2 separate regions of the Homo sapiens genome follow, and region 2 is linked to region 1. The links come from fine-mapping of genetic effects on gene expression. A gene starts in region 1. The other region holds a variant in brackets. All regions are shown on one strand. Distances are from middle to middle. Region 1 holds the start of GRIA1 (glutamate ionotropic receptor AMPA type subunit 1). Region 2 overlaps GRIA1 (glutamate ionotropic receptor AMPA type subunit 1).

Region 1 (4,530 bases):
GGCTACGGGCTGGGCTACAAGGGAAGTGTCTCCCCTGAAGGCAGGAAGTTTTGCGTGTTAGGCACTAACACACAGATACGTACACACTTCAGGATGTAGCTTAACAGGTGTCAGGAAACAAAGCAAGTTACTCCATGGCCACTCCAAGCCGCCAGCTAGCTGGAGAGGCTGAAAGAGATGGGTACTGCAGCACATGTATGCCCGACAAAATATCAATTGCACCACATCCCCCCTCAAACACACACTCACAAAAGAGCACAAACTCCCAGCAATGCGAACTTTCCCTAGTGGAGCTATCTCCCTACCAGGGGAGAGAGACTAGAAACCAAACCAACGAAGATGCTTCCAAACACAGCAGCTTGCTTCATTCCGGGACACAAACGACACTGACATGCTGGTCACACGGAAGCCCCAAGCCCTTGTGGACATGCTTTGTGATTGGTGTTATTGCTTCTGTTTGTTTTGCTTTCCCTCATGATTATCAGGAGTAGCAATATCTGTCAGTCCCCTCAGAAATACAGGGAGGGTGGCGGGGCCTTTGAGAAGTGTAACAACTAAGAAGGGGAAATGGGGAACAAAAAAAGCATGCAGCATGTTGAAACCTGCCTCCAAGTTGAGAGGATGGAGCCCAGTAACAAGGATAATGGAGAGCCAACAGGAGGAGAAAGGAGCATGTGTACGTGTGTGTGTTTGTGTGTGTAAAAGGTAGACCTCTGTGGATAGGAAATCTAAGAGGAGGGGGCAAGGAAGGAACGGAGAAAAGGCAGGCGAGGAAGTTCCAGGATCGGGGGAGTGGAGACCACCAGCGCAGCATGGCAGACAGCAAAGAGAAGGCAGCTGGAGGAGTCCAGAACAGGAGAGGGAGCCTACCCGCCTTGGAGTGGGGGCCTTCTGGCATTATTTCAGTGGCTGCAATATACCCAGCACCCCTCACTCCTTCTTCTCGAGGGTCTCTTTTCTGTCCCCCAGCAGAGAAAGCACTGCCTCCTTCAATTACATATATATGTGCATATGTAATATATAATCACACACGTGAAAACACACACACCATACATACTTACATTAAAAATGGAATCAAGCACCATCTACCAAGCAATAGAGTTAACTCCTTAAACACCCACCACCCTTTCCAGCCTGATTTTTTTTTTCCTCCAAAGCGATGGTTCCTCCATTTCACATGCTCTTGCCTGGAGTGCGAGTAGGGTATGTGTGCGTGTGTGAACACTTCCCCTCTGCCCCTCATCCGATCAGGAGAAGCCCCCTCCTCTGGCTGTAAGCCCAAGTCTCCCTTCTGTTACCGCAGCACAGCTTTAGGGAGCCAAGCAAAACAGTCAGTACCGGGGAGGGGGTACACAACCCCTATCCCCAAAAAAATCCCTGGCCAGACCCAGAAAGTCCCTCCCCAGGCTGCCCCCTCACTCACCGATCTGGATATTGTTGGGGAAATTGGCACCTACTACCGCGCCTAGGAAACCGGTGCAGAAGAAGGCAAAAATGTGCTGCATATTCCTTTTTGCATTGGCGAAAAAGAAGCCCAGGTCCAATCATAGATTTGGTGTTTCCCCCCCTTTCCCTTTATTCTTCTCGCTGTTCTGCCTGTTCTTTTCCTCCTGCAGTTCCTTCCTTGCTTGCTTGCTTCCTTCCTTTCGTGAGGTTTGTCTGTTTCCCTTGGAATCCGAACACTTAAACTGCAGCGTTAACACCAACTGACAGCCAGATTAACTGAGCACGGGAAAAGAAGCCCGTCCTCATGCTAGCTGGAGCGCTGGCTCCCCCACTCCCTCTCCTCTCCCCTCGCAGCCTGCCTCTCTCTCCCTCCCTTGCTCTCTCTCGCTCTCCCCCTCACACTCACACAGGCAGCAAGCTCTATGCTAATACCCACCGAGCTAGCTTGGAGTTCCACAGCCGACCTCCCTACCTGTTCCCCCTTCCTCCCATCCTCACCTTATCCTCCTTTCTGTGTGTGCAGAAAGGTGGAGGTGGGGGTGTGTGACACGTGGCACTTGGTCCTGAAAGGGGCAACCCCACAGTCCTCTTTACCCTCCCCTGCCTTTCTGAGCTCGGTCTGCCCGCTCCCCCAGCCCCCAGGCTGAAGCTGCTGGGAATGTGGGTTCAGCTGTAAGTCAGTAGGTGGCAGGGGGTCCCCACAATAGTCCTCAATCCACCAGCTGCTTGATCTAGGTCACTTTTTCTAGGAGTGCATGGGCTGCGCTGGATATATCTCCTGCACTCCACTGGCCCAATTATTCCTACAACTAATTCCTGAGGGAAAGACCCTAGAAATCCCTCCTAGGAAATTTAAAGGAAAAAAAAAAAAAAGCTTTCTCTCTCCTAATGGAAGGAATGACAGATAGACAAACAAGGGAGGATCTGGAGTGACTGGCAGGTATTTTGACCAGGTATTTGACAGTCCCTGTCTACCTTTACAAGTGAAACGGTGGTCTCTTTTCAATCCTAGGCATTTAAAATGGGCCCCCTTCTCTCTTTCCCTGCATTCCACAGGAGTCTATAGCATCAGAATCGTGTGGGTGTACAATAAAGACTAAGGATACTTACACAGAGCAATTACATGAGTCATTTTGCAGGGATTCTAGTGAGAGGATTCAAGCTTCTTTCAGGTCTTTCTGGATGCTGGTCATGTCTGGTGTAAGCTGGAACTTCATAGACTCTCCTAGACCAGGGCTTCTGCTGAAATAACCTGTAGAGAGATCAGCTGTGTTCAGGATAGTAGTGTTAAATGCAAAGCAGCAGCCACTAGCCGCCACAGAATACAGTTTTTGAAGGAACTTTACAGATTTTTATCCATCTATCTTCACTCCAAACCTGTAAAGTGGCCATGAGCCCTGTTTTACAGATGAAAAAGATAAGACTTCTGGGATTAAGTCATAAAGACACAGACCTACTAAGATGTACAGTACAACCTACAAACTTGAGTGCTTTGGCCGTTACCAGTTGACTTACTGCCCTGGCCAGGACTCCTGTCCAACAGGAGATGATCCAGGAAAAGGAAAGTCAACTTTGTCTTTAGTAAGAAAGAAATAATAGACTTTGGACTCCATTTTGCTTTGCCATATGAATAGGCCATTTTATCCACAGACTCTTCACTTCCCTCACCAGGACTGTATATCATGTGGACTTGAGTGACAGCTACAAGGACTGGGATTTGTAAAAAATATCTGACCATGTACAATGAAGCCCCAAAATAGGAACAACTTGGAGGTCAAATGCTTTGTGATTTCCTATGCACTTTCACATATATTAATTAATTAGCTAAAATAATTTTTAAGGCTAATGTTTATTCACTATTTTGAATGTGCCAGGTACCATGCTAAGAAATGCACCTGCATCATTTATTTGTACAATACCTGTGTAGGTAGCCTCATGCCCATTTTATAGATGAAGAAACAGAGGTCTAAAAACTCACCCCAAGTTTTCACTGCTAATGAAAGAGATTGGGCATTTAAACACAGTAAATGCCACCATCAGGCCCCAGCTCTTAACTCTTAGGCTCTAATAACAGCAAGCACTGGGTAGGAACCTTCTAAAGGAAGAATAAGCATCAGCATAGGAAGATGAGAGAACAGAATCAGGAAAGATCACTTCTAAGGTCTCTGCCAACATTAAGAGTCTCTGATTTAATGATTCCATCTTTTAATTTCTCCATTTTCAGTTTTTGTATCTTACTACTTTGAATAGTACCTGGGGATCTTTTAGGTTCCCTAAGCTTTGTGCCTGGTAATAATAATAATTAGGCTGTCATTAAAGGCTTCACACCTTGCAATCACCTTTTAGAGGAAGCTCTTTAGACCCTTTACAAGCAAAACCTCAATGTCCCCCTGCATTAGGTAAGATTTGTTTTGCATACTTTGTAGGGAGGGGACTTTTAAGGGAGTCAAAAAGATGAATTTTCCATGGTCATTATAAATCATATAGTCAAGCAGATCTTCCTAAAACAGAGGTCTACGTCATTGCCCTGCTCAAGTATGGTCAATAGCTCCCCTTGGTCTATTAAATACATAGTTGTTCACTGATTAAATATAGAACTTACATATTTCAAGTGTAGGCATCTAGGTCAAACTACATTAGGTTCAATGTTTATTCCATGTTTCTTTATAATTCTCTTCATTTCAAATGTTGGTGGGGAACCTATTCTGTATCTCACAGGGTGCCAGGTGCTGGGCAATATGAAGAGGAATCAGACACAGTCTCTGCCTCAAGGCAGGTGAATGTGGCAGAAGAAGAAGACAGACGAACCCGGACAACTGTCACCCAGAAAGACCATGACAAGTGCTCTAAAAGATGTAAACACAGCAGCGGGGGAGCAAAGAAGGATGCAATCAGTGTGTCTGTCTGTGGGGATCCAGCAAGGCTTCAAAAGAACTGAGCCGTGAAGGATGAGGAGATTATAGGCAGTAACTGAGGACTGGGAAGGACATGCAAACCAAGGAAAGAGCCCCAGCAAAGGCTGGGGGCAGGAAAGAATGCCACGTGCTCTGTTAGCCTGGAGCCGGCAGTGCATAACTGGGAAGA
Region 2 (4,000 bases), 31 kb before region 1:
TATTTATACAGGAGAGCTGCTACAAGAGGCAATTCATTAATTAATAAGAATTCATACCTAACATTAAAGAAGATTTTTCTATGTTCTAGGCCCTATTTTTGATAATTTCATAGATTAATTAATTTGATCCTCAAAACCTTCCTCTGAGATAACATTTAGCTATTCCCAATTTTGCAGTTACATGGTAAGATTTCACTTTTCTACCTCCTTTAAAGTTAAGCCTGGCCATCAACTTGCTTGATCCAATGAACTGTGTGTGGAAATGATGTCCGTGACCTTGGGAATAAGGCTTTAGAGCCAGGGTGTGGCTTATTACATAAGTTCCTTTGACACTGTGATCATGTTAGGATGGTCCCTCTTTCAGCTTGGGTCCCTAAGGAAGCATGAGGAGCAATGCCTCTCCCCACTCCCCCACCATTTTGTGTTGGACTTGCAGCATGACCAAGAAATAAACTCATGTTATATTAGCCCATGGAAGTTTGGGGGTCATTTGTTACTGTGGTATAACCTGGCCTAACTTGACTGATACAAACTCTTACTCATTATGAATATGAGCTCTACGGTCAGACCACCTGAGTTCAATGTCCCTCTCCACCATTCATCAAATTGACTTCATTTTCAAAATGGGAATAACTATAGTGGCTACCTCACTGGGACATTTTAAATATCAATAATAACAACTTTACATGCCATGATACAGGTTACAGGTAGTATTTTAAACTGTTTATGTGTTCTCTGATTCAGTCCTTACAATAACCATCTTGCAAATGAGAAAACTGAGGCACAAATAGGATATGGCACTTGCCAAAGATTACACAGCTAGAAAGTAGTGGGTTCAGGATTCAAACCTAAGGCAGTTTAATTCCAGAGTCTTACACTTATCCACAGGCAATGTGTGGGAGCACTCAGCTCCCAACACAATAATTACAGGATCACTTTCTCCAGGTGGCATGAGAAAACTCAGTGTCTGGGTCCTACAGTCTTTTGAAGGGTGGGCCTAAAAAGTATGTCTGACCAGAAAAATAAATATATTGACTCTGAAATATTAAAAGCAAACTGTAAAATCAAATTAATAAATATTTAAATATCTATAAAACATGTCATTGCACCAACTAGTGTGCAGCAATGCCACTCAACTCACACATAAATCAGATTCAATGTGAGATGTGGGTGTGCTATAATATCTTTGGTGTAATGAGAGCAGCAAGACACACAACAGTGCATAGAGCCTAAAATATGCCTTAAAACAAGCCCCTGATTAGAGTTCAATGAATGTCAGCTATCATATTATTTTCATTATTGTCCTTAGCTTCAACCACCAGAGCTACATCTGAAGCTATTCAAAATTCTTCAAGGAAGCAAATTGGTCCCCTGAGCCACTCCCAAAAGGCTCTGGGAAGCTCACCACCGAGGATGGTTCTGTCCAGACTCAAGGGAAGGCAGCAAGACTGAGCTGCTTCTTTTTGCCCGGGAAGATCTATTTCTCCTTCCCCACTGAGCCAGATGTGGAAGCTGTAGTTCTGTCAAAGGGCTCCCAGACTGCCACAGGGCTGGGCATGGAGTTAAATAAAATGTACCTTTGCAGCTACAGCAGAAAGTCAGAGGCCATTGGAATCTGCAGCTGCCTGACTCCAGCTCTGCCTCTTACTCTGTTTCTCTGGTCCCTGATACTTTCTTCTGTTTATGGCATGTGTTACTCTGCATAAACTCTTCTTCCTGAAAGTTCACACTGACTCTTAAACCTTGGTCCACTGTCCAGGGTCTGCTGCATAGCCTAAGCATTGTGCTCACTCAGGACATGGTATCTGGAAATGCTTTCCATCCTTCATGCCAAGCTAACAGCCTCTGACCCCAGGCCCTCCCTTTTGTTCCCTCTTTTGATTCCGCTCATTTCATCAGCATGACTCGCAGAGTTTTCCTCATTTGTTTTTGAATTCTGGGGTAGTGATTTAATAGTAATAGGTTCAAAGATCAGACAGATCTGAATTCAAATCCTTGTTCCACTGCTTGTTAAGGGTGGGTGAACTTAGTAATTTACTAAACCTCTGTTTTTATAATCTATAAACTGGGGCCTAAAACATTA[C/T]CTGCTTCATGGAAATGCTTTCATGATTAAATGAAATAAGCCAGTGAAAGTAAGAAATATAATTGCTCAATAGATGTTAGCTATTTATATTGTTATTATTACTATTACTAATTCTTACGTTTGATTTTCAGAGGTTCCCTGTGAATCAGGTGAGTAAGAAATCCAGGTTCTTATTTCATGGAGAAGGAAGCAGAAGGTTGAATAGGTTGGGAGGCTGGCCCAAAGTTACAGCATTTGTAAGGAACAGAACTATGGAGCCTCTAGCACTAGATCTAGGAAGTCTTCTGTCTTTTATTCCTTCCATTGCTTGTATACATCTTCCCTACTCACTTCCATATCCATGGGCCCCCACAAAGACAATTTTAATGATGTCCTCATTTATTGCAGCAATTTTTGTAGGTAGGCCCTTGTGTCCTGTCTTTCATTAGAACAAAATCCCCCTTTCTTCTTATGCACCAAGCTCAAACCTCAAAGAACTGCAGAGAATCTTGAATCTGGCAACTTTTGATTTGGTAAATAATTTGCCTTTGTCCTTCAAGGCTCCACTGTGGGTGGCACTGCATTGTTCTGGATTCCCCTGAGAGAGCTAGCAATTTGTGGGCCAGCACATTCACCTCTGTGCCCTTCACCTTCTCTGTAGGATGTATAAGCTAAATAAAAGTTGAATGAATAAAATAAATGAATGACTAGAGAGTCTGAAGAATTCAGAGTGAGGTGAAAGAAAAGAAACGCTGCTTGCTGAAGGAGACCAGTTGGGAGTCTGGAAGCCTTGGGTCTAGAGGTTTTATTAAATTAATAAGCACTGACATATCTAGCAAAGAGCCTGGCCCACTTAAGCTCCCTAACACACATTAGCTATTGTTACTACGAACCTAACAGGCCATGAAATCACAGATACATCTCTTTACTTTGCCTCTCCCCTGGACAGGCAGATTAACAGATTAACAATCCTTTCACTCCTACTCTACTTTGTGTAACTGGAGAGATTTTTAAGGGAGAAAATAAAATTATCAAGAGGGAAAATAGATTATTAGAATATAAACATGCCTTGAAAATGTCAAAAATGTAATCAAAATGTATGGTATTACTATTGTACTAATTATTATCATTATATAATAATCTTCAACACATGGCAATATGGTCTGATATGAAGTATTCCTACAGAGAGACTTGATGATGTTTCCTTGTCTAGGACTGTCTTTCCTTTGCTGGTTGAAGCATGCTTCTCAAGGTGGATGGGGTCACAGACTCCATGCCCTTCAGGTCAGCTGTCTTCACAGGGGCTGCACTCCTGGATGATGTTTTACATGCTGCAGGTCCTGGAGCCAGGGTCAGGCAGGGTAACTGGCTTTATTCAGTCACAATCTGGCTTCTTCAGCCGTGGATTGAGAGCAATCTACACTCACAGCGTTAAGATGAGAACTGAGTTACAGAAAAACTTCAGACTCTGATCTAGTCTGATCTAGTATCCCATAAAATTAAGTCATTCAATAGGTAGTGGTTGTCAAACTTTGGTGAGCATCTTCAGAATCATCTGCGGGGCCTGTTAAAACAGAGTGCTGAGCCCCAACTCCAAAGTTTCTGATTCAGGAGGTCCGGCCTGAGACCCTCGAATTGGCATTTCTTTTCTTTCCTTTTTTTTTGAGATGGAGTCTCGCTCTGTCGTCCAGGCTGGAGTGCAGTGGCGTGATCTTGGCTCACTGCAGCTGCCACCTCCCGATTCCAGCGATTCTCCTGCCTCAGCCTCCTGAGGAGCTGGACTACAGGTGCGTGCCATCATGCCCGGCTAATTTTTTGTATTTTTGGTAGAGACGGGGTTTCACGGTGTTAGCCAGGATGGTCTCGATCTCCTGACCTTGTGATCTGCCCACCTCGGCCTCCCAAAGTGCTGGGATTACAGGCGTAAGCCACCGTGCC

The links. PIP is the estimated chance that this variant, and not a neighbour inherited with it, causes the effect.
Region 2: its variant is the best candidate, but not a certain one, in a credible set for the expression of GRIA1 in atrial appendage (GTEx, PIP 0.64).

Annotation. Positions count from the first base shown.
Region 1 is chr5:153,487,864-153,492,393 of GRCh38, reverse strand. GRIA1 (glutamate ionotropic receptor AMPA type subunit 1) reads right to left here and starts at 1,724. Exons shown (of 16, transcript NM_000827.4): 1 at 1,424-1,724. The coding sequence starts at 1,505.
Region 2 is chr5:153,518,988-153,522,987 of GRCh38, reverse strand. All of the region lies in intron 2 of GRIA1 (glutamate ionotropic receptor AMPA type subunit 1), which reads right to left. Among named protein-coding and RNA genes, the nearest start is that of GRIA1, 30 kb to the right of the region's middle. The variant C/T (reference allele first, on the strand shown) is at 2,084.